7 linked regions of the Homo sapiens genome follow. The protein of the gene in region 4 purifies or fractionates together with the protein of the main gene of each other region. This does not show direct contact. Each region holds a gene or a part of one and is shown on either strand. Other genes may lie near its edges. The genes, in order: ADARB1, RAI1, IFT80, TCF20, CLUAP1, BRF1 and SLC39A10.

Evidence for each region.
Region 1: the proteins of TCF20 (region 4) and ADARB1 purify together in Homo sapiens (affinity purification with mass spectrometry; one large-scale study listed by BioGRID and IntAct). This does not show direct contact.
Region 2: the proteins of TCF20 (region 4) and RAI1 purify together in Homo sapiens (affinity purification with mass spectrometry; one large-scale study listed by BioGRID and IntAct). This does not show direct contact.
Region 3: the proteins of TCF20 (region 4) and IFT80 purify together in Homo sapiens (affinity purification with mass spectrometry, with the first as the bait; one large-scale study listed by BioGRID). This does not show direct contact.
Region 5: the proteins of TCF20 (region 4) and CLUAP1 purify together in Homo sapiens (affinity purification with mass spectrometry, with the first as the bait; one large-scale study listed by BioGRID). This does not show direct contact.
Region 6: the proteins of TCF20 (region 4) and BRF1 purify together in Homo sapiens (affinity purification with mass spectrometry; one large-scale study listed by BioGRID and IntAct). This does not show direct contact.
Region 7: the proteins of TCF20 (region 4) and SLC39A10 purify together in Homo sapiens (affinity purification with mass spectrometry; one large-scale study listed by BioGRID and IntAct). This does not show direct contact.

Annotation. Positions count from the first base shown.
Region 1 is NC_000021.9:45,220,930-45,224,899, reverse strand, and holds part of ADARB1 (double-stranded RNA-specific editase 1), read right to left. Parts: coding exon 3,886-3,970; intron 2,883-3,885; coding exon 2,703-2,882; 3' UTR 1-2,702. UniProt on the Homo sapiens protein: Catalyzes the hydrolytic deamination of adenosine to inosine in double-stranded RNA (dsRNA) referred to as A-to-I RNA editing.
Region 2 is NC_000017.11:17,789,148-17,793,117, reverse strand, and holds part of RAI1 (retinoic acid-induced protein 1), read right to left. Parts: intron 186-3,970; 5' UTR 170-185; coding exon 1-169. UniProt on the Homo sapiens protein: Transcriptional regulator of the circadian clock components: CLOCK, BMAL1, BMAL2, PER1/3, CRY1/2, NR1D1/2 and RORA/C. Positively regulates the transcriptional activity of CLOCK a core component of the circadian clock.
Region 3 is NC_000003.12:160,259,856-160,263,225, forward strand, and holds part of IFT80 (intraflagellar transport protein 80 homolog), read right to left. Parts: intron 1-3,370.
Region 4 is NC_000022.11:42,214,859-42,218,828, forward strand, and holds part of TCF20 (transcription factor 20), read right to left. Parts: intron 484-3,970; 5' UTR 448-483; coding exon 1-447. UniProt on the Homo sapiens protein: Transcriptional activator that binds to the regulatory region of MMP3 and thereby controls stromelysin expression. It stimulates the activity of various transcriptional activators such as JUN, SP1, PAX6 and ETS1, suggesting a function as a coactivator.
Region 5 is NC_000016.10:3,499,479-3,503,998, reverse strand, and holds the start of CLUAP1 (clusterin-associated protein 1), read right to left. Parts: upstream 2,996-4,520; 5' UTR 2,932-2,995; coding exon 2,910-2,931; exon of another isoform or gene 1,915-2,909; intron 1-1,914. UniProt on the Homo sapiens protein: Required for cilia biogenesis. Appears to function within the multiple intraflagellar transport complex B (IFT-B). Key regulator of hedgehog signaling.
Region 6 is NC_000014.9:105,294,262-105,298,231, forward strand, and holds part of BRF1 (transcription factor IIIB 90 kDa subunit), read right to left. Parts: intron 1-3,970.
Region 7 is NC_000002.12:195,677,559-195,681,528, forward strand, and holds part of SLC39A10 (zinc transporter ZIP10 precursor), read left to right. Parts: intron 1-2,473; coding exon of another isoform or gene 2,474-2,484; coding exon 2,485-3,492; intron 3,493-3,970. UniProt on the Homo sapiens protein: Zinc-influx transporter. When associated with SLC39A6, the heterodimer formed by SLC39A10 and SLC39A6 mediates cellular zinc uptake to trigger cells to undergo epithelial-to-mesenchymal transition (EMT).

The sequences.
Region 1 (3,970 bases), on a different chromosome or scaffold from region 4:
CACCGAGCGCTCAGAAGGGAGGGATTAAAGTGCTAAGGTCCCCGATCTGTCTCACGGAGGAGTCAGCGTTCTGTATTTTGTTTATTTTTTTTCTGATTACAGATGAGCTGTCCTAGGAGCAGTGCAGAGCCTCTGGTCCCCTGCACGTCACCTTCCTCCCCACAGCCGCCCCGCCCAGGGCTCCCCGAAACCAGTTCCTTCCTACAGCCGCCCCCTGCCCCGGCCCAGGGCTCCCGGAACCCAGTTCCCCCTGACAGCCACCCCGCCCAGGGCTCCCTGAACCCAACTCCTCCTCACAGCCGCCCCCCAGTAGCCCCCTGCCCAGGGCACCCCGAACCCAGTTCCCCCCAACAGCCGCCCCGCCCAGGGCTCCCCGAACCCAGTTCCTCCCCACAGCTGCCCCACCCAGGGCTCCCAGAACCCAGTTGCCTTGGCTGCCTTCCTCCTGCCTGGACGGCTTGGGATAGGGTGCCCTGTGCCTGTCCTCAAGGCCGCACGAGTCCACCCCGGAAAGGTGCCACCTCACATGGTCTCAAGGTAGCTGCTCAGGCCCCACAAGGTGAGGCACTCACTTATTTGGGGTGGTACAGGGAGCAATCATGCTGACTTTAGCTATTACCTGACAGAAGGGAAAAGCCAGACATACCGGGTAGTTTTGTATGTATATGGAATATATTAACACTAAACTTGGTAACCAAAATCCACATATTTTTAAAAACGAAGTCCATCTCCCAATCCCCATTAGAAAAAAATACAATTTATCAAGACAATAAAAATGCACAGACTTACAAGGTGTTTTTTCTAGAGTGTGCAAGAGCCTGCTTGGGGGAAAGCCAGCGACAACAGACCCCTCTCCTTCTGCAGGTGCAGAACCCCAGCGCGATCTGCCTGAACAAAACCCCACTGTGGTGACGGAGCGGCAGAGACGCCTGCTGTGACTGCTTCAGGGAGACAACTACCCTCTTCGGTGGAGGAGGAGGCTGCTGTGGGGCAGATGTTCTAGCCGCTGAACCCGGTCATGTCCCCAACAATGAGCCCTAAGCAGCACCCCTTCCTGCCGTGCTGCGACGAGATCTGTGTGGACACACGTGGATGGGGCTCCTGACATCAGGAGGCACACCCCCCGCCGAAGCCACGGTGTTTCAGTTTTGGGGTCTGAGCTCCCAGCGTCCGGTGGGAGGATGACGCCCCTCTGCCCCTGCTCTGGTTTCCTAGGCTCATCACGGACACACAGGTGCCAACACCCTGGATTTCGCTGTGGCAGGTGTATGCTGTGGGGTAAGGTCTGCACCAATCTCTCCCCATGGCCCCAGGAGACCCACCTGAACACCCTCTAGAGCCTTGGAGCTGGGCACTGCACTGGCAGGCAGAGCACTTCTCTCAGCTCCTCTTTCATCCTGAGCGGAGGCAACAAGGCACCTGGTGCAAATCTCTGAGCTTGGTGGAGGTGGTCCACACAGGGCCCTCGCCCGCCGCGCTCCTGACCTCCCGGGCTGACTCCCTCTGTCGTGGGGCCGTCCCGTGCACGCTGGGCGCTGGGCAGCCCTGAGCTCCCGTCAGGACTGTCAATGTCTGGCCTACACTACGCCAGCAGCACGTGGTCTCACCAGCTCTCACTTGGATGCTTTTTATTTTTCAAACATGTCTTTGATAAAGCTGGAAACAATAATTTAAAACTATGGCATTTTCCAAGAATGAGTATCTACTGAAATCATTCTACTTCCATCCTGTGAAGGCCTTCGGGCGGTCACCCACATCCATTCGATTCAGAGGAAGGAACAGAGGGAACTTAGGCCATGTATTGTGCAGTAGCCCTCGTGATTCCTTCTAGTCCATAAAAGTTAAATATCCTTTAAAAAACCTGAATGAATGGCCAGCCTGGGATTACTGGCCATGTATTATCTGTGATTACTTAGAAGTAAACTGAGAAAAGTTTTCCATGATCTGATCCTACAAGGAGTACAGAAGCTTCTAGAGGAGGCTGAGGGCTACAGGGGCCTGGGTCACGCCTCTGCAGGACACACAGTCACTGCTGCGGGACCCCATGTGCATGACAGGGCCACGCTACACCATGCTGGGAGTCTGCTCCTCAGGGAGAGACTGTTACAACCTAGTGTGTGGAACTACCCAGGGAGGTACCTACGGAGAAAAGAGACCTAAGTTTAGACAGACGTGTGGCGATTTCCTTTAGGCTACTATTTCCTACCTCTATTTTCCCACCCTCCTCCATATATAGATGCTTTTTTGCAATTAAAATAATGTGGCATAAAAGTGACCTGACACAATTACTTCCTATTTTATAAACCACATTCCTAGCTCTGAATAAATTATTTATTCAAGAATTTCACACAAAGTAATTTCTATTTTCCTAAACTTAAGGAAGCCCTACTCAGTAGAACTCAATTTCTAAACGTAAACCGAGATTGAAAGCAGTCACTGGACGGTTCAGAAGGGGAAATGCTGCGGCAGAGAGATGCCAGGCGGCGATGCTGGGCCCTGACGCACCCCATCCCCTCCCCACACTGCGCACCTGCCCCAGGTCTGATGTGAGATGCTGGGGACAACCGTGGACACCTGGTGGTCCCCCGTGTCCCCCTACTCCCTCCCCAAGGTATGCACCTGCCCCCAGTTCAGATGTGAGGTTCTGGAGGATGACGCTGGATGCCCACAGCCCCCTGCACCCCCCATCATGTCTGCCCGGGTCAGGGCGTGAGTGAGAACTGGTCCTGCTCGGTGGGCTTCTCCACCCAGGCCCCCAGCCCCGCCTTGATGAAGGCTGTGAACAGACGCGCCTTGGCGGCCTGGTACTCCTTTGCCGCCAGCTTGGACTCATGGTACACGTTGGGCTTGGTAATCTTGGAGCGTAGTAAGTGGGAGGGAACCTGTGAAGGGATAAAAAAACAAATGCAACTGTTGACGCTGTAACAGATGAAAACAACACCTAATAAGATACCAAAACATGGCCTTCAGAACTGCATTGGCTTCTGGGGGGAAAGCAACCCAGAGGAAGGCGCCTTCTGCCAAGGGAACGGCTTCACACAGAACAAGGTGCGGCGTCTCCTAAGGGCTGAGTTATTGCCAAGTTCCAGTCTTGCTGGTCAAACAGGCAGCTACAGACCCCCGAGTTCTGAAGACATGCTTCTGGGAAACCACCAATAGTGGATTCACGTTTCATTTTTAACTCTAAGAAGCACCACGGATGTTATGTGTGTCATCACCCTGATGACCTCGGAGGCCTTCCCTCATGCGGCCAGTAACTCCTTCTGTGTGGACCTTGGACTTGTGGCAGCTGGCCTGGGTGCTGCCCCTGGTGAACAGGACCCTCCCGGGCACTGTCCCTTCTGGCTATACCTCCCATGCCAGTGCACAATGCTGGTCTCAGAATAAACAGATGCCATCTACTTGACTGAAGAATACACACAAACTAGTAATACCCTGACTTACTATATAAAGTTTTATTCTGGGGAAAAAAGGGCCCCACAGCTAATTCAAAAGGTTTAAAAACTCCACTGGAGGGTTATCACAATCCAAGCAATTTTTATGTTGCTGAGAAGGAGGGGACAGCAGGGTGACTGGCCCTGCGTTTTGCATAATGACTTTCAATATCTGAGAGTAAGAGACGTTTCCACCACACACAGTGGCCTGGCAGTGGGTGTTACCCTGCAGCAGGGAGGAAAAGAGCTGCCTTTGAGATGGCATTAAGGTTTCAGGGACGTAGCCACACTTCTAAGCTAAAACAATCTGAAGGAAGAATCATTCCAAGTGATCGTTTTCGGAAGCTGTGCATGATGACATGATGAAACAACTTAAGGAACAGTAGGTGTGAGGACAGACAAGCTATTGGGGAGGTGGAGCCGGCGCATTGCGGTGAGGGCGCCTCAGTACCTTGCCGTGCACACGCATCCAGCGACAGTACAACGCGTGCTTACACAGGCGGGACGCGCGGCCCAGCTCATCCTTCCCAGTCGTG
Region 2 (3,970 bases), on a different chromosome or scaffold from region 4:
GGTAAGGCTGCGGGTTATAATAGTCCTTGGCGAGCAGCCGCTGCCGGTCGCAGCTTAGCCCGGCCTGACTCGGCTGCCTGTAATTCTCTAGGCGTGATGTTTCCTGCGAGGTCTGCTGGTAGTTCTGTTGTTTGCCATGGAAACCACACCTTTCTCGAAAAGACTGCATGACTCGGGCTGGTTATCTGTGAAAAGAAAAAGGAAGGGAGGGAGGGAGGGAAGGAGGGAGGGGAGGATGGGCAGGGAGGGGGCAGAGGATGAGCGATTCAGACGGGCCACTTCCTTTTGCCTCAGAAAGCACCCTCCCACCCACCTCCCCACCCTGCCTGCTCCCCCGCGCAGCTCTTAATAGTCCCCCCTTCGCCTGAGCCTCCCCACCAGCTGTGCGCATATTGACAACTTCTGTGTCAGGGAGGTGTGCTCTGTAATTCCCGCTCCCACATCGCCTGCAGCTGAGTCTTGCCAAGGACGGCCACTGATGCGGGAGGCAAAACCGGCTGCCCAGCGCCAGGTCACTGGGGAGCTACCCGCCCCCCCCCCGCCCATTGCCAGCTCCTCCCCAATGTCCCCCACCCATCACTCCCAGCCCTTCCTGACAGCTCAAAAGCATTTAGCAGAGCAATTCCCGCTCCCTCATCCCCTGGGGCCTGCTGGATCCTGTAATTTAGTCCCTTCGCGACCGTGTTCAAGCATGACCCAGCCATGCTGGGGACTGAGGAGGGTCTGCCCCTGTCCCCACGCACATGCGTGCACACAAGCATATGTATGCTCACACACACACGCGCGCACACACACACACACGCATGCACACACACACCTCCTCTATCACTGCCACGCCATCTGGAATCTGTCTGTTCCTTCTAGCAGACATCGATTAGGGGCTGCCAAGCCACTGTAGACATAAAATGTCCCCTCCTCTGACTCCCAGGAACGCAAGACGGCAGCACCTGCCTCCTGTTTTTGATATCATACGTGCATAAACAGATTACGTGGCCCAGAGTGAGGGAGTGCATACTAATGGGAGTAGAGATGCAGTCCCAGGGCCACGGCCACGGAAGGGCACAGCCCAGCCCCACCCACATGGGGCGACACAGCCCTGTCCCCTCCTGGCCAGTTCCTCCCCACCTCAGCAGGTGAGGGCTGGGGCAGGCAACACTCAAGAGCCCATCTGGTTATGATTTTAGGGGATGGGGCTCAGGCAGGGGTCTAACCTGCCCCTGCCTGCAGAGCAGAATCCTGGGTCAGGAAAGGACCCAGGGTGGGTTGCGGGAGCCTCTCAGAGCAGAGCATCTGACAGCCCAGCATCCAGGGTAAAGGTTCCTCCAGCTGACTCGCTGGCCTGGCCAACCAGAAGACCCCTCAAAGAGGGATGGAAGAAAGAGGAATGCCCCAGGTTTTGGAGGAAGTGCATGGAGGGGCTGGCCATTGGCCGAGTCCCAGAGGGTTTGGGATTTACCCAGAACCATGCTGGCCCGGAGGCAGGAAGAAAGGGGCTCAGCTCGGCCTGTGTGGCCCAGGCCCCCAGGAGGGGATAGGGGACTTTCCAGTGCTGGTTCCCAAATGCTCCAAAAGGAAGGGGTGGCTTGCCTCAGGCTACAAAGATTCCAGGTTGTTGAAGGGGTCAGGAAGGGACAAAGAGAGGGGGAGAGGGGCACAGAGAGGGAGAGGCACGCAGAGTCGGGGAGGGGCACAGGGAAGAGGCAGAAAGGTGGGGAGTGGGGGAGAGCTGGGGGTGCTGCTCCATTTACCCTTCTTCCTTGGCCCGGACCCCACCACAAGTGCCTTCCTCATTTAGTGTCTGGGGATGGATGCAGGGAAGGCGACAGAGGGCCTCCATCTGCCTGAGAGCAGGGCAAGCCCAGGGCAGCCAGATGGCCCCCAGAAGCCCGTCAGCCCAGTCCTGGGACCACCTCTCCTGCTCTCTGGAGTCAGCTTGCCCTGGCCCACAAATGCAGGAGAGTCAGCCCAGTGTGGGGGCCGGCCACTTTCCCACGAGGCGAGCCCCTGCCCACCGGCTTATCAAAGCCGCTTTCCCTCTGCTCCAGCTCCTCTCCCTGGATTTGTCGCAGGCATCCCTAACAAGCAGCGTGCCCACCCTTCTGACCCACTTCAATCCTACCCCTGGCAGCTTGGATAAAACATTACAGGAGGTTCCTGCTGCGACGCGCCAACCCAGAGGAGCTGGGGACGGCACTTGGTTCTGGTCTGGCAGCTCCCTGCCAGGTGGGCAGCCTCACGCTCCTGCCCTGGCCAGACTGCCACAGGGCAGCCCAGGCGGGCCTGTGCCCAGGCCGAGGGCACAGCGCCCGCTCCCTGCCCTCCCCAGGCGCATGTTTATGAGCCCAGAATGTGCAAACCCAGGACCACTCTGAAGGCTGCGCCTCGTATATCTGCACAAATTACATTTCGGCTTTTATTAGTCCCAGATCACTCTCATTTCCTGCTGAGTGTCCTGTGGATATCATTAACATTTCTACGGCTTTATTTTTTATTTTTTTTCACATTCTCCAAAATGCATTACCAGAAACATTATTTAAAGAGAGACAGAGACAGTGAGGGGGTGCTATTACCAGTACCCCCTCCCTGCCTGTCCGTCTGCATTCCTCCCTCCCTGTTTAATTGGTCCAGCTGCTGTGTCTTTTAATTTAGCCGAGCTGTATTACAGGCAGGTTTCCCAATACACACGAGCAGCTGGATGCGGTGAAAGCATCTATTGCTAAGAAAAGACAGTTCAATTAAAACACGAGAAGCCCAGTGCTGATGGAGAATGCAGGCAAAAATGCTCGCCCCAACACCACCCTGGAACCCAAGGCAAAGGGAGGGATGGGAACAAAGGCACAGGCCGCCTCTCAGTGCCAGCCAGGTCCCACTGCCAGCTCTGCTGGGAGAAAAGGGGGCACTGCCTCTTTAAGGGCTGCCTCAGGCCTGCTATGGGCTCTGTTGTTATTAATTATTATGATTATGATTACTTTTCAAGAGCACTAGGACAGGACACAGAAGGCGAGGCAGGCAGCAGGGCTGGGCTGGGTTGGGTTGGGCTGGGCAGGCCTCAGGAGAGGAGGGGGCAGAAAGAGCACCCCCCTCCCTGGCCCCGGCAGAACGATGGTGACCTTTGAACCTGGGGGCAGGGAAGAAGTGGCCTAGCAGGCAGATTGTGGGTTTGGCCTGTGGCTTGGGCTGGAGGGAGAAGGGGTGGTGAGAGGGGACAAGGGAGGGCACCCCCCACCCACTGGGCTCACTCCTCATGGTCCAGCTCAACCACACTGCCCGGACGGTCCCCACTCATTCCCATCCATCCGTTTCTCCCCAACCTGCCTCTCCTCTCAGACACTTGGTCCAGGCCTTATCTCCAAAGTTCTTGCTGAAACTAGAAGGCAGGAGGAGCGGAGTCTAGTGCATCCTCTAAGCACCAGATACATGAACACTTCACCCTTAGAATCAGATCCTGGAACTTAGTCTTCTCAGCGCTGGACAGAGGAGGCAGGCCAGGCACAGCAGGGAGCATGAGCTGGAATCACATAGCACCCAGGGCATCAGGATTCCCCTTGACACAGCAATGGGTGTCCTCACTCCAAGCCATGAACATAGTGGGGGCACAACGAAACCCCAGCTACCCTACGGTGCAAGGCCAGCGGCTCTCACAGGCCTTCGGCAGTGTGGCACACACCTGGGGCACAGCCCTTCTTTTAGGCAAAGACCTCAGCCCTTTCCCTCCAGAAATCTATAGGACTGCTGAGGCGGGAGCAAGGCGGCTGCAGAACACCTACTCTGTGCGGCTTTCTTGAACAACGGTTTGATTAATCTCTCCTCCCCCTTTACAGAAAAAAGTGAGGTTCAGGACAAGTGCCCTGCTTAGGACCCCAGAGCAGAGCCCACCCGCAGGGAAGCTCCTATGCAGGACGCCCTCAGCAGCAGCGGCAGTGACTGGACCACGGGTGGACACCCCTGTCCTGAGCCCCCGTGAGGGGCT
Region 3 (3,370 bases), on a different chromosome or scaffold from region 4:
TTTACAGGAAATAAATCCAAACCCCTGAGTCTGGGCCAAAAGTGAATAGGTTTTCACCTCTGTTTAGGGGAGTTGAATGGAATAAGTAGTATTAAAGCAGAATGAAGTAATCTCAGTCTGCTTGAACAGATTTAGCTTAAGTAAGTGAGGGGTTAATTTAACTTTAATAGGACTTCATGCCTCTTTTATGCTGGAGGTTAAAGAAATTAAGTATTTTTTTTAATTCCAATATCCCATACCTGAATTGCTGTGAAGCAATTTGTAAATATTTTGGCTCACCTTTATTTAAAATAACAATGCCATATACTTATGTATAATACATAAAATAGATGAATTAATAAACGAATTCCTCTCACTCATAGAAGACAAATGTCTGTGCTAAGATGCAAGTGACAGCTCATTGAAAAGCCAAGCAGATGTTAGATTATTTGAAAGACTCATTTTTTCAATCAGGGCAAAATCTGATATTTTTTAAACGGCAAAGCACTCATTTCTATGTCTAACAAAACACTTATAGAGAAGACGAAACTTGATGGATGCTTTGGGTTTCTTCCAGCCTTAAATTGACTTACATACATTTCTCAAATCAATCACAATAAAACCATACATTGATAATATACTGAACAACTGCTGCTCTGTTGCAAGTAAATTGATGATATCTGTATTAGTTATTTGTTATAATACAAATCAGGGTGTCAGTGGATAGCTGTCCTACTGAAAATAAATGTTTCACTTTCGCTTTGGCATTGATCTAGTTTTAAAAAGTGTTCTACAGATAATTTAGTTCGTGGATTAGAATATTTTTAATAGTAGGTTTTAGATAAGAATGTTCTCTGATAGTTGTCAAGTGATTTCTACACTAAAATCCATCTTTTGCTAGTATAGGGACTGCCAATATTATCTGGCACTCCTTATTCTACTCGCTAGCCAATTCTTAGTCACCTATAAGCAATTTCAAAATCATACCAAAAGGCTCTCCATCCTCTAACACATTTCTCTTTCTCTTCCTCTCAGCTGAAGATCAGCTTCCTACTTTACAGAGAATATAGTGGCCATGAGGTATGAATTCACTTTATTTTCCTTCCTTGCATTCACGAACTTACCTGTATCTACACCCATCATTATCTTTCTCTTCCGTCTCAGGCCAACCTCTTAACATATGTCTCTGATTCCATTTTCTTTGACTCCTCTAGGACATCTGACTTCAATTATTCCTCACACATTAAATGTCCTTCTTTTCACTGACTCGCTCTCATCATCCTTGGCTCTCTATGCTGTCTTCTCCCTGCAAGCTACCATCCTTCTTCTTCTCATTCCTGACTCTCATTCTCTTCCCTGTCCACTATAATTCTGATCCTGTGACACTTTAAGAACTTTGCACTAAAACCACCTTCGGCTGTTTTCAGTCCTTATCTTATATACCTTCTCTGTATGATTCAATTTTTCATTCAACAAATATTTAGTGCTTAGTATATATCAAGGATTGTCTGAGGTACAAGGATTCACCAGTGAACAAAAAGATAGAAATCACTGTCTTCATAGAGAGATAATAAACAAAGATAAAAATGGAAAGGGCAGATAATAAACAAAACAAAAAATATATCTAGTATGCCAGAAGCGGTAAAGATTTTGAAAATAGAGAAGGGAGATAGTGAGCACCAGGAATAGAATAGGAGGTTGCAATGTCATCAGTTTACTTCACGGGAGGCCAAGGCAAGAGGATTGCTTGAGCCCAGGAGTTCAAGACCAGCCTGGGCAACATAGTGAGACCCTGTCTATACAAAAAAATAAAAAATTTAGCTGGGCTTGGTGGCATTCATCTCTAGTCCCATCTACTTAGAGGGCTCAGGTGAAAGGATCGCTTGAGTCTGGCTATGTTGAGGCCACAGTAAGCTGTCATTGTGCCACTGCACTCCAGCCTGGGCAACAAAGTGAGACCCTGTCTCAAAAAAAAAAAAAAAAAGGGGGACCTGAAGGAGATGAGTGAGACCCATGTGTATATCTGGAGAAGGGCATGGTGACATGCAGAAGTACACGGACGGCCCTGGAATAAGAGCCTTCTCTGGACCTTGCTGACCACTGCTCTTTGAAAAATCTCTCAAGACTGTATAATACCATTCTCTTCTGGCTCCTGCTCTCCTTTCTAAATGCTGCTTCTTTCTTTCTCTCTCTTTTTTCCCTATATTCTGCTCCCTAGACAATGTTGGAGAAGAAATATAATTTCTCCTCAACGCTTGTAAGTTTATTGATGGGAGAGATAGGTGAAAAGAGAAAAACAAGCCGGTTCAATAATATGTGCAGTGTACATCACAGCAGGAGAAATCTCAATGAAAGGTAACTCAAAACAGTGTCTTGGAACTCTGGGTTACATAGCATTTTCAACAAAGAACAATAAATTTTAAAGATGTGACAAGACTGTTTTTAGAGAAGTGAAAACAGTTTTAGGCTTCCAGAGATTGGAAACCATGGGAAAAAAATATATGGGAAGAAACTAATCAGGTGAGGTTTGTTCTATTTTTGAGACAGGGTCTTGCTCTGTCACCCAGGCTGGTGTGTGGTGGCCCAAACATGGCTCACCGCAGCCTCAACCTCCTGCTGGGACCACAGGTGTATGCTACCACACCTGGCTAATTTTTTAAATTTTTTTAGAGACAAGGTCTCACTTTGTTACCCAGGCTGGTCCTGAACTCTTGGGCTTGGCTTACATGATCCTCCTGCCTTGGTCTCCCAAAGTGCTGAGATTACAGGGGTGAGCTACCACGCCCAGCCACGGAGTAAGGTTTTTTGGTAGATTGCTCTGGAGTCGTCCCTGAGCTGACAAGAGTTGTCTCTAGTAAAGGAGAATTTATATTTTGTCTTTAGGAGGAAAAGGGGGAGAATAGAGCTCTTCCATTTGCTGCAGCTTGTCTTTAGCTCAAAAATATAAGTGTCAAAGAGACATATTTTGGGGTGTCATATTTTGGTTTCCTTCAACAACCTCTTAACTGTTAATATTCACCAGGGTCCAACCATAGCTTTCTAACACTTTCCCTAAGAAATATCAATTCATATAGCTTCAACTATACCTAGATGGTCAAGGCAATAAATTTAGTTTTCTAGCCCTTATTTCTCCCTTGTCAATGTCCTTTTGTGTTCATATTTATATTTCTAATTGCCTGCTAGATACCTCCTTCTGGACACCTGATAGACACTCTAATCACATACAAAATGGTATATTTTCATGTATTCAAACTCAAAGGTCCAAAATGTGTATATTCTTATGTATTCTTTAGATTAATGGCATTCCCATCTATCAGCTGCCCACACTAGAAATGTTGAAGTCATTCTCAAATGCCCTGCCTTACCTCACCACCTCTCCTCCCACCCCCAG
Region 4 (3,970 bases):
CACACCGCCAAGGCCAGAGTGCTGTGCTTGAAACTGGCCCACATGACCCTCACTCCCATACTGATTGCCAAAGCTGCTCCCCTGGGGGGGTCCATAGCTCTGCACAGGCCCAGAAGGCCTTCGCTGAGGAGGCTGTGGGGTTCCTGTAGTCACGGGGTCTTTGTTGCCTGCCATGTAGTAAAAATCTCCAGCCTCTTTCCTGAAACCCTGGTAACCTTGATGGCCAGAGGTCTCGCTAGCCATCGCTGCCGCAGCAGCTGCTGCTCCTCGTCGTCCACCACCACTGCCACTGCCACTGCTGCCACTACTGCCACCTGTACCTCCAAAATTCTGGAACATCTGGGCCTGACGAGGGCTGAACTCTTCTAGCCGGGATGAGCCGTGTACCTCCTGTGGGTAGCTTTGCTGGTTTCCGTGGTAACTGCTTTGCTCCCGAAAGGACTGCATACTGTTCAGCAGCACAGCAGCAGGCCAACAGCCCTCCTAGAAATAGAAGAAAGAAAAACATTAGACACGCATCTCCTTGGTACAAATAAAATCAAGTCTAGATGATGGAGGGAATAAAGATGAATCAGAGGCCCAGATGAAGCTGACTGGTTTGAATTTCTATTTTTTTTTTTTGGTTTTTTGAGACAAGAGTCTCACTCTGTCACCCAGGCTGGAGTGCAATTGCACGATCTCAGCTCAATGCAACTTCTGCCTGCAGGGTTCAAGCAATTCTCTTGCCTCAGCCTCCCGAGTAGCTGGGACTACAGGCGCATGGCCACCAGGCTCGGCTAATTTTTTGTATTTTTAGTAGAGACAGGGTTTCACTGTGCTGGCCAGGCTGGTCTCGAACTCCTGACCTCGTGATCCGCCCACCTCGGCCTCCCAAAGTGCTGGAATTACAGGCATGAGCCACCACGCCTGACCTTGAATTTCATCTTTTATATTTTATCCTATCCACTTCTGAAAATGCACATATGCAGAGAAATGGCCTAAAGAGTGAGGCAAGAATCTGTAGTAGAATGAAAAGCAGCACTCTGAGTGCATACAAACCCAATACAGCAAAAACATGTATGTCTCATATATCTAATAATGCCTTATTAGACAAATGAGCCCCCAAACTCAACCAGATTAAAATATGGGGCTGTGTTATTACTGTCAATGAAAAACAGCAATTTTTCAATAAGCCTCCCAGTTATGCGGGGGAGGGGGTGTGGGGTAAGAAAAACCAAATCCTTTTTTTTTTTTTTTTTTTTTTTTTTTTGAGACAAGGTCTCACTCTTGCCCAGGCTGGAGTGTGCAGGGGCACAGTCGTAGTTCACTGCAGCATCAAACACCTGGCTTCAAATGATCCTCCTGCCTCGGCCTCTCAAAGTTTTGGGACTACAGGCATAAGCCACTACTTTCATTTCTCTGCTTTCATGTATTAGGGTGATCACTGAACTGCGGGTTTTAACACTGGCTGCTGATCGCCACTCCCCAACACTGAGAAACAGACCTGGCCAGAGAACTGCAGCCAATTCCTTATGTCCAAGTGCAAATTTTTGCAGCTTTACTATAATTGCCAACTACCTGTGATGACTGGTGACTCCAGGACACTCAGCCCATATGGGTTCCACACAAACTTTGGAGTCAACCTCTTCTTGGCATATGACTGTGTCTACAGCACCCCTCTCTCCACCACTCTCCTTCAATTCCCAGGTACAAAGGGCTAGACTTAAGCCAGTGAATAGCAGTGACTATTCTTCCAGATTATTTTGGGAGGTTTCCAAGAAGTTCCAGCACCTTTACCCGCCATGTGGTATTTGTATTTGCCAGTTTTTTAAATTCACAGTTATTACTGGCCATTACTATGAAAGAATTAGAAGCAATCATCTTGGAGGACAGCAAAAAACAGAGAGGAAAATAGGAATTCATCAAGCCTAGGACCCAGACTCTTTCAAAGTTATCTGACTGAGCCACCACTTTGTATTACCTATTATAATCCCTCTTAATCAATCAAGCTGATTTTTTCCCCTTTCACCTGGGCCTGTCTCCTCAGAGTCAGAGATGAAAGGGACAAGGCCAAATTGCTCCAAGTGACTTTAGAACCAATTACTTAAAAAAACAAGTTCCAAAATACATATAGGGTAAAGTGAGGTGTAATAGACAGTTTAGTTTAGTTACAATGGTTTATGAAGCTAGTTTCCTAGTTCCCCTGAAGGGGAGCTGAAAATGGAGTTGCCTGCAGGAAAGTCAACAACCTTTTTAAAGGTAAGTCAGATTTATCCTCTCCAATCCCTGGAGTGGCTCCCACCTCATTCTTTGGGAAACTGGTCTCAAAGGCCCCTGCTCCCACCCCCTTGACCTCTCTGAGCTCCTCCCCTATCACTCTCTGCTCTAGCCCCACAGTTGCCTTGTTCCTGGAACAGGCCTACCACATATCTACATAGGAACTCTGTTCTCACCTGCACGTTCTTCTCCCAGAGCCAGATAGCTTGCTCTCCTTCCAGTCTTTGGGCAAGTGTCACTCATTCCCTGGTCATTCTAGTAAAAACAGCCAGCTCCACACCTTTTCCCTGGCTGTAACTCCCTCCCCTGTTTTATCCCCTGCCTGGCCCCATACTTACTCCAAACAGACACATATATGCTACTTGTTTACTGTCTGTCTCTCCTCTGACTAAAATGTAAACTCCTTAAAGGGCAGAAACTGACTGTTCCTTGCTGTAATCCTCACGTCATCACACCGGAGTCTGTGTGAATGATTAAATGGTGTAAGAACTAGGCCTTAGAGAACTAGGCTAGAACTCACATATTCAGAGATGGTGCTGTGGGAGTGACATGAGAGAATTATAGAAAGTGAAAATAGAATATGATCAACCTAAAAGCAGAGCTGGAGGATGCTGAAGACCTTGCCTGTAAAATCCCATGAGTCCGGTTCTAAGGGAAAGACCCAGCTTGAGTCCACATGAGAACTGAGGAAAGACTTCAGAAAGTAAATATTGATTAGAGCAGAAGATGGCCAGTAACCCCAAATTCTAAAAGCTTGACCCATATCTTGAAATATCGTAAGTCTAAAACAGCTAGACAAGGGTCTACTTCCTTAAGCTTGATTATATAGTCATGTGACCCAAAACAATCGCTAAACATTCATGTGCAAATAATGTCAGAATCTAAAGGAAACTTCTCATCCTATTCAAAATGCCTCTGTTGCTTTGTTCCAGTGAATCTGCAGGGCAGTAGGTAATAGCTATTCAAATGGTGATGATGCTGCTTGACACTGTTCCAGCACTTCACATACACTAACTCATTTAATCCTCACAACACTAGCACGCTCCTTTTACAGATGAGGAAACAGAAGCAGAGTTCACAAAGCTCCTAGGCAGCAGGGCTGGGGGCAGGACATGTTTTTAACATTACATTGCCCAGAGGGTCTTCCACATGGTCAGTAAAAAATACCAGTTGTCCTGTCAGTTTGGCCTTGAAAGTGGGTAGCCACCCACAATAAATCTGTCCCTTCACTGCCACCCTCTTATAAGGACCTCCATACTGTTCCAGCTGGCTCTTCACCCGCTCCCCATCATTCTTAGAACTATCAAGAGCAATTCTGTCTACATGAGTATTAATTTTTTCCCCTTGTGATGTGCTCCTGCTCTACTCCTCAGTGCCAGTGGCCTTCTCTAGATAAAACAAGGCTGAATGGGGGCTAAATTGAACAAAAACATTAAAGCTAGCAGTTTAAACTAATGAAAAGCCTTCTCAAGAGATATTCTCTATAAAAAGCTATGTTACATGTTGTTTAATTAATCCTTCTGGAAATAAAATCAGGCTTCTGAAGATCTGAGTGTATAAACAATGTTGCCACTTGCTCCATATTCTTCCTAAATAGGAGCCACCAAGAGCTAAAGGCCACTTTAAACATCAGGGTATCAGGCCTGAGGCTGCCCTATCTCCAGACAGGGAAAACAGATACAGGAAGGACTCCTTCTTAGGTCTGTTCTCAGCC
Region 5 (4,520 bases), on a different chromosome or scaffold from region 4:
ATGTACCAAGATCTACATTCAGTGTGCTTCCTGGTTATTTAAGGTCTGTCTGCACTCTTCTTGAAGATCCATGTTCAAAATGGTCCATCAATGTTCACAAATAACCTACCTAGGTACTGCAAGTCAGGTCAGACTTCGCAAGACAATGAAACAGAAAGTGTGAGCACAGGAAACAGCAAAGTCACAAAGGGACTCTGTAACTGTTTTCTGGGAAATGTGAATACAGAGATTAAAAAAAAAATTAACTGGGTGTGGTGGTGCATGCCTGTGGTCTCAGCTATTCAGCAGGCTGAGGTGGGACGATCACCTGGGCCCAGGAGGTTGCAGTAAGCTCAGATCATGTGACTGCACTCCAGCCTGGGTGACAGAGTGAGACCCTGTCTCAAAAACAAAAACAAAAAAGGCCAGGCGCGGGTGGTTCACGCCTGTAATCTCAGCACTTTGGGAGCCGAGGAGGGTAGATCACCTGAGGTCAGGAGTTCAAGACCAGCCTGACCAAAATGGTGAAACCCCACCTCTACTAAAAATACAAAAGTTGCCGGGCACAGTGGCTCACGCCTGTAATCCCAGCACTCTGGGAGGCCGAGGCGAGTGGATCACAAGGTCAGGAGATTGAGACCATCCTGGCTAACACGGTGAAACCCCGTCTCTACTAAAAATACAAAAAAATTAGCCAGGTGTGGTGGCGGGCACCTGTAGTCCCAGCTACTAGGAGGCTGAGGCAGGAGAATGGCGTGAACCCAGGAGGCGGAGCTTGCAGTGAGCCGAGATCGCGTCACTGCACTCCAGCCTGGGTGACAGAGCGAGACTCCATCTCAAAAAAAGAAAAGAATAAAATAAAAATAAAAATACAAAAGTTAGGTGAGTGTGGTGGCGGGCGCCTATAATTCCAGTTACTGGGGAGGCTGGGGCAGGAGAATTGCTGGGAGGCAGAGGTTGCAGTGAGCTAAGATCACACCACTGCACTCCAGCCTGGGAGACAGAGCAAGACTGTCTCAAAAAAAGAACAGAAAAGAAAGCAGCAGCCTTTCCTTCACACAGTAAGGCACTGCCTAAATACTCCTGACCACTAGGTACTAGTCAAGTTCTGTTAATGCTGCGGTGTTATTGTCAAAATAGACACTAATTTGAGTAAGATCCTTACCATACACTGCACAACTGCAGAGCATTAATTTAAGATCAAAATATTCCGAAATCTCCGTGTGTGCGCTCCCCAACAAAACCCCATTCTACGTCCCCCGGCAGGGTGCTGGCCTCTCTAAAAACTATGTGGGAGGAGACAGTCATCCTGCATGATGTGTGGCCACCAAAAACCTTCAAACCCCAGAGGGCAGGATTCACACTCTGGTGCTCAGTGGCTGCATGGATAAAAGGTAATGCGTCTTCCTAGATATTTTTACATTGTAGAAAAGAGCAATTCATAACCAAAAGGAGTAATCTCTAATGCTAAAATTTCAGGCACCAACAATTGGACGAGAAAACTGGCTTTAAGAGACCCCTCGGATCACACCAAATTGGCAATCATCATCTACCTTTCCTTTTTTTTTTTTTTTTTTAAAGACAGTCTCACTCTGTCGGCCAGGGTGGAGCGCAGTGGTGCCATCTTGGCTCACTGCAACCTCTGCCTCCCGGAATCAAGCAATTCTCCTGCCTCAGCTTCCCAAGTACCTGGGACTACAGACGCGCGCCACCATGCCCGGCTAATTTTTTGAATTTTTAGCAGCGGCAGGGTTTCGCCATGTTAGCTAGGCTAGTCTAGAACTCCTGAAATTAAGTGATCCGCCTGCCTCGGTCTTCCAAAGGGCTGGGATTACAGGCGTGACCCACTGCGCCCAGCCGTAACCAACACTCTTAGCCTCGTTCTTCCACTTCCCCACCCTCTTAGCAAAGGAATTCGAGCTCCCTTCTCCTTACCAGCCCTGCAGAAAGGATGCAGATGGAGTTCAGGATGTCTGGAGTTCAGGCAACCTGAATTCAAGCCCCAGTGCCACCTCCTACCGCCTGTATCACCTGCCCAAGTTACCTGACCTCTCTGTGCCCGTTTCCTCACTACCAAATACAGGGGGCACAGAGTTGTTCAGATGATTAAAATGAAATGCGCATAACACAGAGCGGGCCCTGGCAGATCGTTAAAACTCAAAAAATGTTAGCCGCAATGATTATCACCCAGCCTCCTCTCCTCGGTTTCGTTGCTGGTTGTTTTTTTTTTGGTTTGTTTTTTGTTTTTTGAGATGTTGTTTCGCTCTTGTTGCCTAGGCTGGAGTGCAATGGCCCGATCTCGGCTCACCGCAACCTCCAAAGCGATTCTCCTGCTTCAGACTCCCGAGTAGCTGGGATTACAGGCGCCCGCCACCACCCCCGGCTAATTTTGTAATTTTAGTAGAGACGGGGTTTCTCCATGTTGGTCAGGCTGGTCTCGAACTCCCGACCTCAGGTGATTCGCCCGCCTCGGCCTCCCAAAGTGTTGGGCTTACGGGCGTGAGCCACCGCGCCCGGCCTGCTGTTCGGTTTTCTAAGCGCTAAGCTAACCCAACTCAAAAAATAGTCTCTAAACTCTCCATGCATTTTCCAATACGGTAGCGAAGAGCGGCATGCAGCTACACAAACAGAAATAAATTACACTTAAAAATTCAGTTATTCATCTGCACTAGCCACATTTCAAGCGTTCTGAGCCACACGCGGCCAGTGGCAGATAGAGAACTTTCCATCCTCGCTAGAAATGGCCGAAGAAGGGCCTGGGACGCTCGGCCGGGTTGCAGCCGCGGGTCAGGCGGTCCCTGAGGCGCAGAGGCCCGAAAGGAGCCTCCGGCAGCGCAAGCCTCAGGGATCGCCTACACAGGGGACCCGGCGGGCGGGAGCCCTGAATCTCTGGAAGACCCGCAGGTCACAGGGGCGCGGGGCTGCCTTACTGCGGAGGTCGCGGAAAGACATAACGCTCAGGTCCCCAGGAGCCCAGGGTCGCAACTGCTCGCCCCTCAGCGATCACAGGCCCAGCGCTCGACGATCTCTATGGCAACCAATGGACCCTTGGACGGCGCACGGTCAGGGACAAACAAAAAGCGAAGCGAAGACGCGGCGGCACGTGCATACGCACGGGGAGAGCGGGCCGGCAGAGAGCGCTCCTGAGACGCCGAGGGCAGAGGGCGTGGCGATACCGGCGTCTATGAGGGCTGCAAGCTTCCCAGCTTCTGGGCGTCTGTTTACACGCTTTGCGGACGTTTCGCGCTGGGTGACAGGTTCTGAGTACCTACTACGTGCTTGATATTGCGCTAGGCGCTTTCCATATTGCTTATTTCCCCCTCATTTCTATAAAGAATGCACGATGCTTGGCTGGGCGCGGGGGCTCACGCCTACAATCCCAGCACTTTGGGATGCCGAGGCGGGCGGATCACTTGAGGTCAGGAGTTCGAGACCAGCCTGGCCAACATGGCGAAACCCCGTCTCTACCAAAAAATACAAAAATTTGCCAAGCGTGGTGGCGCACACCTGTAATCCCAGCTACTCGGGAGGCTGAGGCAGAAGAATTACTTGAACCCGGCAGGCAGAGGTTGCAGTGAGCCGAGATCGCGCCACTGCCCTTCGGCCTGGCGACAGAGCGAGACTCTGTCTCAAAAAAAAAAAAAAAAAAAAAATGCACTATACTCAGGAAGCCCGCCTTCCCCCGTCCGAGGCACAGCGCGCTCCTCGTCGGAATCTGGTTGCCGAGCGGAGGACGGGATCACTGTGGGCGCCCAGAGGCAGGCCAGGCCTCGGTCTCGCGCACGCGCAGACGGCTCGGGCTGCACAACAGGCCGGAAAGGGGCCCTGAGCCGCTCGCGCCGCGCGGGTCCCGGCAGCCCTAGCCTCTGCATGGGGGCGCGAGGAGACGGCAGGAAGGGGCGGCCTCCACGTGTGAAATGGGGAGATGCCCCGCCAGGCGTGGCACAGCAGCCGGGTTTTGTAAGGTAGCTTGAGCAGGAACAAGGAAACAGCGTAGTGCACAAAGCGATTGGTTGGCATCAGGTTATTTCAGATGCATTTCTTTGGGTTAAAGCAGAGGGGGCTTCCTTATGCCAGCCTAGGTGGACAGGGCCCCTTTTGTTGGTTGCAGTGAATCTTCTGTGTTTTGGCAGACTGGCCTGTCTCTAAGTTCGCATTGATTACGTGGCACCTTGCACTAGCGATTCCATTCTGGTTTGGTCTGGTCCGTTGGTACCTTGTGCAGGAGCTCGCTCCAAAACAATGGCCTCCCATAAATGTTGCTTCACGTGTTATTAAGAAAAACAAAAGATAAGCCACAGTCTAGAAGAAAATATGCACAAAACACATATCTGATAAAGAGACGTGTATCCAGAATGTATCAAGAACTCTCAACACTCAATAATGAGAAACAGTCTAATTAGAGAATGGAGAAAACATTTTAAAAGCTACTTCACAAAAGAAGATATATGGATGGCTAATATGCAAATGAAGAGATGATCAAGGCTATTATTAGAGAAGTGCATATTAAAACCACAATGAGATATCACTATGAAGTTATT
Region 6 (3,970 bases), on a different chromosome or scaffold from region 4:
GCGCCTCCCTCCAGAGAGTGTGCCTGGGCTCAGAGGCGTCTTGGGGCCACCTGACAGCGCTGGCTCTGAGCTTGTTCTGACAGCACCCGGGTGACAGACTTCCAGCTCTGCACTGCTCCACACCACCATCCTCCCCCGGCAGGGCACAGTGAGGGCAGTGCGCTGTCACCAGGCCCGGATGCACTTAACACTGTGCCTGCCCGGGAAACCCTGCGTCTGCTGCCATGACAACTTGCTTTCATTACTGTTGTTATCATCCCAACAGACATCCAAGTCTTGGCAACTGTGACACAGCTGCAAACTCTGTGCCCAGCAGTCCTAGGAAGATACCCAGGGAGTATGAGCATGGAAGACGATGGGGAGGGAAGAGCAGGAGAGAAAACTCAATGAAGCCCAAGCCAGTTCTTAGAAAAGATCAAAAACACGGATCAACTTCTAGCAAGAGAGACAAAGGGAAAAAAAGACACAAAACACCAACATCTGAAAGGAAAAAGGAGGCCACTGTGGACCCCGCAGATATCAAAAGGATAAGGGAATGCTTCGAACAACTCTCTGGGCAAATTCAACAACTAGGTCAAGTGGACCAATTCCTCAACACAAGCGGCTAATTCACCCCAGGTGAAACACAGCATCTTAAATATAACTAGAACCTCAGTGATGAAAGAAGCCGAAACCACAGTGCAGAATCTTCTGAGAAAGAAAGCTTTGGGACCAGATGGCTACGCTGGTGAATTCTACCAAACATTTCAGAAAGAAAGAACACCAACTCTACATAATGTCTTCCAGAAAATAGAAGAGGAAACGTTTCCCAACCCATTCCATAAGGAGCAGAACCCTGATACCCAAGACAAGGACGTTACAGGAAAAACTACAGGCCAATATCCCACGCAAGCATCAGCAGGAACCCTCAACAGAACATCCGGCGCTGAGCAAAGCAGCTCATGCCGCTAATCCCAGCACTCTGGGAGGCCAAGGTGGGAGGATGCCTTGAGGTCAGAAGTTCGAGACCAGCCTGAGCAGCAAAGCAAGACCACATCTCTACAAAAAAAAAAAAAAAAAAAAAAAAATTGGCGTTGGCTCACACCTGTCATCCTAGAACTTTGAGAGGCCAAGACGGGAGAATTACTTGAGCCCAGGAGTTCCAGACGAGCCTGGTCAACATGGCAAAACCCCATCTCTACAAGAAAAATACAAAAATTAGCTGGGTATAGTAGGGCGCACCTGTAGTACCAGCAACTCAGGAGGCTGAGCTGGGAGGGTCACTGGAGCCCAGGGGGTTACGACTGCAGTAAGCCATGACCACTGCACTCCAGCCAGGGTGACTGAGCAAGACCCTAGACCCTGTCTCCCCAACCAAAAAAAAATTTTTTTAATTAGCTGGGCATGGTAGTGCATGCCCGTAGTCCTAGCTACTCTGGAGTCTCAGGTGGAAGGATCTCTTGAACCCAGAAGTTCCAGGCTGCAGTGACCTGTGATCACACCACTGCACTCCAGTCTGGGCAACAGTGAGACTTTGTCCCAGAAAAAAAAAAAAAAGCTGGGTGCGGTGGCTCACGCCTGTAATCCCAGAACTTTCAGGGGCCAAGGCAGGTGTATCACTTGAGATTAGAAGTTCAAGACCAGCCTCACCAACATGGTGAAACCCCATCTCTACTACAAATACAAAAACCAGCCGGGTATGGTAGTGGGCTCCTATGTAATCCCAGCTACTCAGGAGGCTGAGGCAGGAGAATCGCTTGAACCCAGGAGGGGGAGGTTGCAGTGAGCCCAGATTGCGCCACTGCACTCCAGCCTGGGCAACAGAGCGACACTCTATCTCAAAAAAAAAAAAAAAAAAAAAACTCAAGGAGTGTATTAAAAACTCTTAGGGGCCAGGTGTGGTGGCTCACACCTGTAATCCCAGCACTTTGGGAGGCCAAGGCGGGTGGATCGCCTGGCCAACATGGCAAAACCCCATCTCTACTAAAAATACAAAAACTGCGGCCGGGTGCAACAGCTCACACCTGTAATCCCAGGACTTTGGGAGGCCGAGGTGGGCGGATCACGAGGTCAGGAGATTGAGACCATCCATGTAACCCCGCCTCTGCTAAAAATACAAAAAATTAGCCGGGCGTGGTGCTGGGCGCCTGTAATCCCAGCTACTTGGGAGGCTCAGGCAGGAGAATGGCATGAACCTGGGAGGCAGAGCTTACAGTGAGCCGAGATTGTGCCACTGGACTCCAGCCTGGGTGACAGAGCAAGACGCCGTCTCAAAAAAAAAAACAAAAAACTTAGCTGGGTGCGGTGGCGGGTGCCTGTGATCCCAGCTACTTGGGAGGCTGAGGCAGGAGAATCTCTTGAACCTGGGAGGCGGAGATTGCAGTGAGCCAAGATGGTGCCACTGCACTCCAGCCTGGGCAACAAGAGCAAGACACCAGCTCAAAAAAAAAGAAAAAAAAAAAAAAACCTCTTAGAACAAGTAAGTTTAGCAAAGCCATAGGAAACAGGACAACACACAGAAATCAACCATATTTATATAAACAAGCAATGAAGAGTTGAAAACTAAATTAAAAAAATTCCACTTATAATAACTCCTAATAGAGCTTAGGTACACATCTAAAAAATGTCCAGAGGGCCAGGCACGGCAGCTCATGCCTATAATTCCAGCACTTTGAGAGGCTGAAGTGGGGGGGGATCACTTGAGGTCAGGAGTTCGAGACCAGCCTGGCCAACATGGTGAAACCCTGTCTCTACTAAAAATACAAAAATTAGCCAGGCGTGGTGGTGGGCTCCTGTAATCACAGCTACTTGGGAGGCTGAGGCACGAGAATCGCTTGAACCCAAGAGGCAGAGGTTGCAGTGAGCCGAGGTTGCACCACTGCACTCCAGCCTGAGTGACAGAGCGAGACTCCATCTCAAAAAAAAAGTCCAGAAGCTGTATGCTGAAAACTACCCAACACTGACAGACTATATCAAAGAAAATCTAAATGAATGCAAACATACACTGTGTTCCATGGACTACAAGATTCAACATAGAAAAAATGTCAGCTGGGCACAGTGGCTCCCACCTGTAATCCCAGCACTTTGGGAGGCCGAAGAGGGCGGATCACGAGGTCAGGAGTTCGAGACCAGCCTGGCCAATGTGGTGAAACCCCGTCTCTACTAAAAAATATACAAAAATTAGCTGGGTGTGGTGGCGTGTGCCTGCAGTCCCAGCTACTCAGAAGGCTGAGGCAGCAGAATCACTTGAACTCGGGAGGCGGAGGGTGCAGTGAGCTCAGATCGCGCCACTGCACTTCAGCGTGGGTGACAGGGTGAGACTCTGTCTCAAAAAAAGAGAAAGAAAGAAAAAATGTCAGCTCTCCCTAAATATATCAAGAGGTTTAATGCAATTCCAATGAAAACCCCACCAGGACTTTTGTACAGGTTGAACATCCCAAATCCAAAAATCTGAGATTATAAATGCTCCAAAACGGCCCGGTGCAGTGGCTCACGCTGGTAAACCCAGCACTTTGGGAGGCTGAGGCAGGTGGATCACGAGGTCAGGAGATCGAAACCATCCCGGCTAACACGGTGAAACCCCGTCTCTACTAAAAATACAAAAAATTAGCCGGGCGTGGTGGCGGTCGCCTGTAGTCCCAGCTACTTGGGAGGCTGAGGCAGGAGAATGGCGTGAAGCCAGGAGGCGGAGCTTGCAGTGAGCCGAGATAGTGCCACTGCACTCCAGCATGGGCAGCAAAGCGAGACTCCGTCTCAAGAAAAAAATAAAATAAAAAATAAATGCTCCAAAACATGAAACTTTTTGAGTATCAACACGATGCTCAAAGGAAATGCTCACTGGAGCATCTCAGATTTCAGATTTTTCGATTAGGGATGCTTAACCAGTAATTATAATGCAGATATTCCAAAATCAGAAAACTCTGGTATCCAAAACACTTCTGGTCCCAAGCATTTCAGGTAAGAATATGTGACCTGCAGAGATGCACAAACT
Region 7 (3,970 bases), on a different chromosome or scaffold from region 4:
AAGTTTAGTTTTATTCCTTTTTACCTTTATATAAGAATTATACTGCTTTCTTTGGTGTTTGTCATTTTTTTCCCAATATTTGTGAAATTCATCTATGCATGAAGCTGTAATTTCATTTTTATTCCTGTGTGATAGATTTTTCTGTTTCATTTATCATTTTGTTGTTGATTAACATTTAGGCTTTTATCAGATTTTTTTTTTTTTTTTTTTGACCAGAGTCTGTCTCTGTTGCCCATGCTGGAGTGCAGTGGCACGATCAGGGCTCATTGCAACCTCTGCCTCCTGGGTTCGAGTGATTCTCCTGTGTCAGCCTCCCAAGTAGCTGGGCTTACAGGCACATGCCACCACGCCTGGCTAATTTTTGTACTTTTAGTAAAAATGGTTTTACCATGTTTGCTAGGCCTGTCTTAAACTCCTGACCTCAGGTGATCTGCCTGCCTTGGCCTCCCAAAGTGCTGGAATTACAGGTGTGAGTCACCACACCCAGCCTTTTTTCAGTTTTGACTGTGATGAATAATGATTACGTGAATATTCATGTTGGTATTCATGTACATGGATTTCTGTTGGGCATATACCCCAGATTAAAATTGCTGTGTAAGTACATAGGCTTACATTCAGCTTCTGGCAGATCTTGCCAAACAGTTTTTCAGAAGATACAATCTCTAATACTACTGTCAGTACACAAGTTCCATTTAACTCTATATATTCTTGCCTACTTTTGATATTGGCAGTATTTTATATTTCAGTTATTTTCATGGGGTATATAGTGGTATCTAATTGTGATTTTAATTTGGTTTCCTGAAGACTTCTGAGCTGAACATATTTTCATTTGCTTTTTAGGAGTTTGGCTGCTGTTATGAAGTGCTTGTTCAAGTTACCTACTCATTTTTTCATTGGGTCGTCTTATTGTAATTTTCATATTGATTTATAGAAGTTCCTTATATATTTTTGAGTATACATTGTGGTAGTCTTCTCCCAGTCTGCAGCCTGCCTTTTTAGTTAGGTTTTTTTTTTTTTTTTGGATGTCTCTTGATGAAACATAAATTCTTAATTTCAGTGTAATATATTATCAATTTTGTGTTCTATCTCGAAGGTCTTAAAATTAGTCTCCCAAATCTTCAAGATCTGCGCTTTCCAGTACAGTAGCCAGTAGCCACACGTCTGTTGAGCACTTGAAATACAGTTAGACTGAATTAGGATGTGCTGTAAGTGTAAAATACATGACAGATTTCAAAGACATAGTATTAAAAAGAATGTAAAATATTTTAATAATTTTTATATTGATTAGATGTTGAAATTATAATATTTTGGATATAATGGGTTAAATAGAATAGTATGAAATTAGTTTCATCTATTCTGGAAAACTTCAGAATTACATAATTGGCTCTTATTATATTTCTAGATTCTTGAAGTATGCTTGTCCAATAGAACTTTCTATAATGATGGACATGTTCTGCGTCTACGTTGTCCAACATACTAGCCATTTGCTACATGTGGCTGTTGAGCAATTAAAACATAGTCAGGGTGACTGAGAGGCTGCATTTTAAATTTAATTTTAGTTCATTTAAGTACCCGTATGTGACTAGTGGTGGCTACCATTGAATTGGACAGTTCTGGACACTTTATCATTTTAGCATTTCTTGTTTCAGATTTATGTTCAGGAGCTATTAGCAATTGATTTTTGTAATGATGTGTGAGGTAAGGGTCAGATTTTATTTATTATTTTCTTTTGTGTGGAAACCTAATTGACCAAGCACCAAGGAAAAGACCATCCTTTCCGGTTTTTAGCTTTTGTCTTCTGTTCCTTTAGTCTGTTTGTTATTGCACCAAATACCACAGCATCTTTGATAATTCATAGAGTAAATGCTTCAATTTTGTTCCTCAAGGAATACATCTTAGCCGTTCTTGGCCCTTTCTATTTCCACATCAATATTAAAAACAGTTAATCAGTTTTCACAAAATTCTGAGATTTTGACTGGGGTTGTATTGGATACATAGCTTATCCAGTCATAACATGATATAGCCATCCGTTTATTTAGGTCTTTTATTTCTCTCAGTAATTTTCTGTCAATAATATTTCTCTCAATAATTTCTCTCTTTTCTATGTAAAGTTCTTGTATGTCTTTGGTTAGATACATTCCTAGCTATTTGCTACTGTTGTAAATGTTACTATTTTTGAGTTTTATTTTCTAATTATTGCTGATATATAGGAATATAATTTATTACTGTCCTTATATTCAGTAACTGTACTAAACTAACTTATTCTTAAAGATTCTTTAAGGCATGCTGCATAATTAATTCTACCATTTGTGAATAATGACAGTTTCACTTTTCTCTGGTTCTTAACATATTTTATCATGAAGGAAATGGAGTAAAACTTTTTTTAGTGGATTGGCAACTTCCAGAGAATTAGATTGTTTTGAATGTGTCTAGGTAGAAACTAATACTTGTCTCTCTCTTTAAATCTCTTTAGGAAAAATAGAAATGAAGGTACATATGCACACAAAATTTTGCCTCATTTGTTTGCTGACATTTATTTTTCATCATTGCAACCATTGCCATGAAGAACATGACCATGGCCCTGAAGCGCTTCACAGACAGCATCGTGGAATGACAGAATTGGAGCCAAGCAAATTTTCAAAGCAAGCTGCTGAAAATGAAAAAAAATACTATATTGAAAAACTTTTTGAGCGTTATGGTGAAAATGGAAGATTATCCTTTTTTGGTTTGGAGAAACTTTTAACAAACTTGGGCCTTGGAGAGAGAAAAGTAGTTGAGATTAATCATGAGGATCTTGGCCACGATCATGTTTCTCATTTAGATATTTTGGCAGTTCAAGAGGGAAAGCATTTTCACTCACATAACCACCAGCATTCCCATAATCATTTAAATTCAGAAAATCAAACTGTGACCAGTGTATCCACAAAAAGAAACCATAAATGTGATCCAGAGAAAGAGACAGTTGAAGTGTCTGTAAAATCTGATGATAAACATATGCATGACCATAATCACCGCCTACGTCATCACCATCGTTTGCATCATCATCTTGATCATAACAACACTCACCATTTTCATAATGATTCCATTACTCCCAGTGAGCGTGGGGAGCCTAGCAATGAACCTTCAACAGAGACCAATAAAACCCAGGAACAATCTGATGTTAAACTACCGAAAGGAAAGAGGAAGAAAAAAGGGAGGAAAAGTAATGAAAATTCTGAGGTTATTACACCAGGTTTTCCCCCTAACCATGATCAGGGTGAACAGTATGAGCATAATCGGGTCCACAAACCTGATCGTGTACATAACCCAGGTCATTCTCATGTACATCTTCCAGAACGTAATGGTCATGATCCTGGTCGTGGACACCAAGATCTTGATCCTGATAATGAAGGTGAACTTCGACATACTAGAAAGAGAGAAGCACCACATGTTAAAAATAATGCAATAATTTCTTTGAGAAAAGATCTAAATGAAGATGACCATCATCATGAAGTAAGTATAAAAAGATGTCCGATAGCTGCTTCGTAATTCTCACATAATTGTGGTGCATTTTAAAAACAGGATAAGTAACAGTGGAGTATTAATCATATTTAAACTTATTTCCATATGTTTACCTATGAAATATCAGGTAATGTTCATGAACAGAATACATTAAGGAATCAGAATCAGTGTAAAGATTTTTAAGTATCCGGGCGCGGTGGCTCACACCTGTAATCCCAGCACTTTGGGAGGCCGAGGCGGGTAGATCATGAGGTCGGGAGATTGAGACCATCCTGGCTAACATGGTGAAACCCCGTCTCTACTAAAAATACAAAAAATTAGCGGGGCATGGTGGCGGGCGCCTGTAGCCCCAGCTACTCGGGAGGCTGAGGTGGAGAATCACTTGAACCCGGGAGGCAGAGGTTGCAGTGAGCCGAGATCATGCCACTGCACTCCAGCCTGGGCGACAAAGTGAGTCTCCATCTCAAAA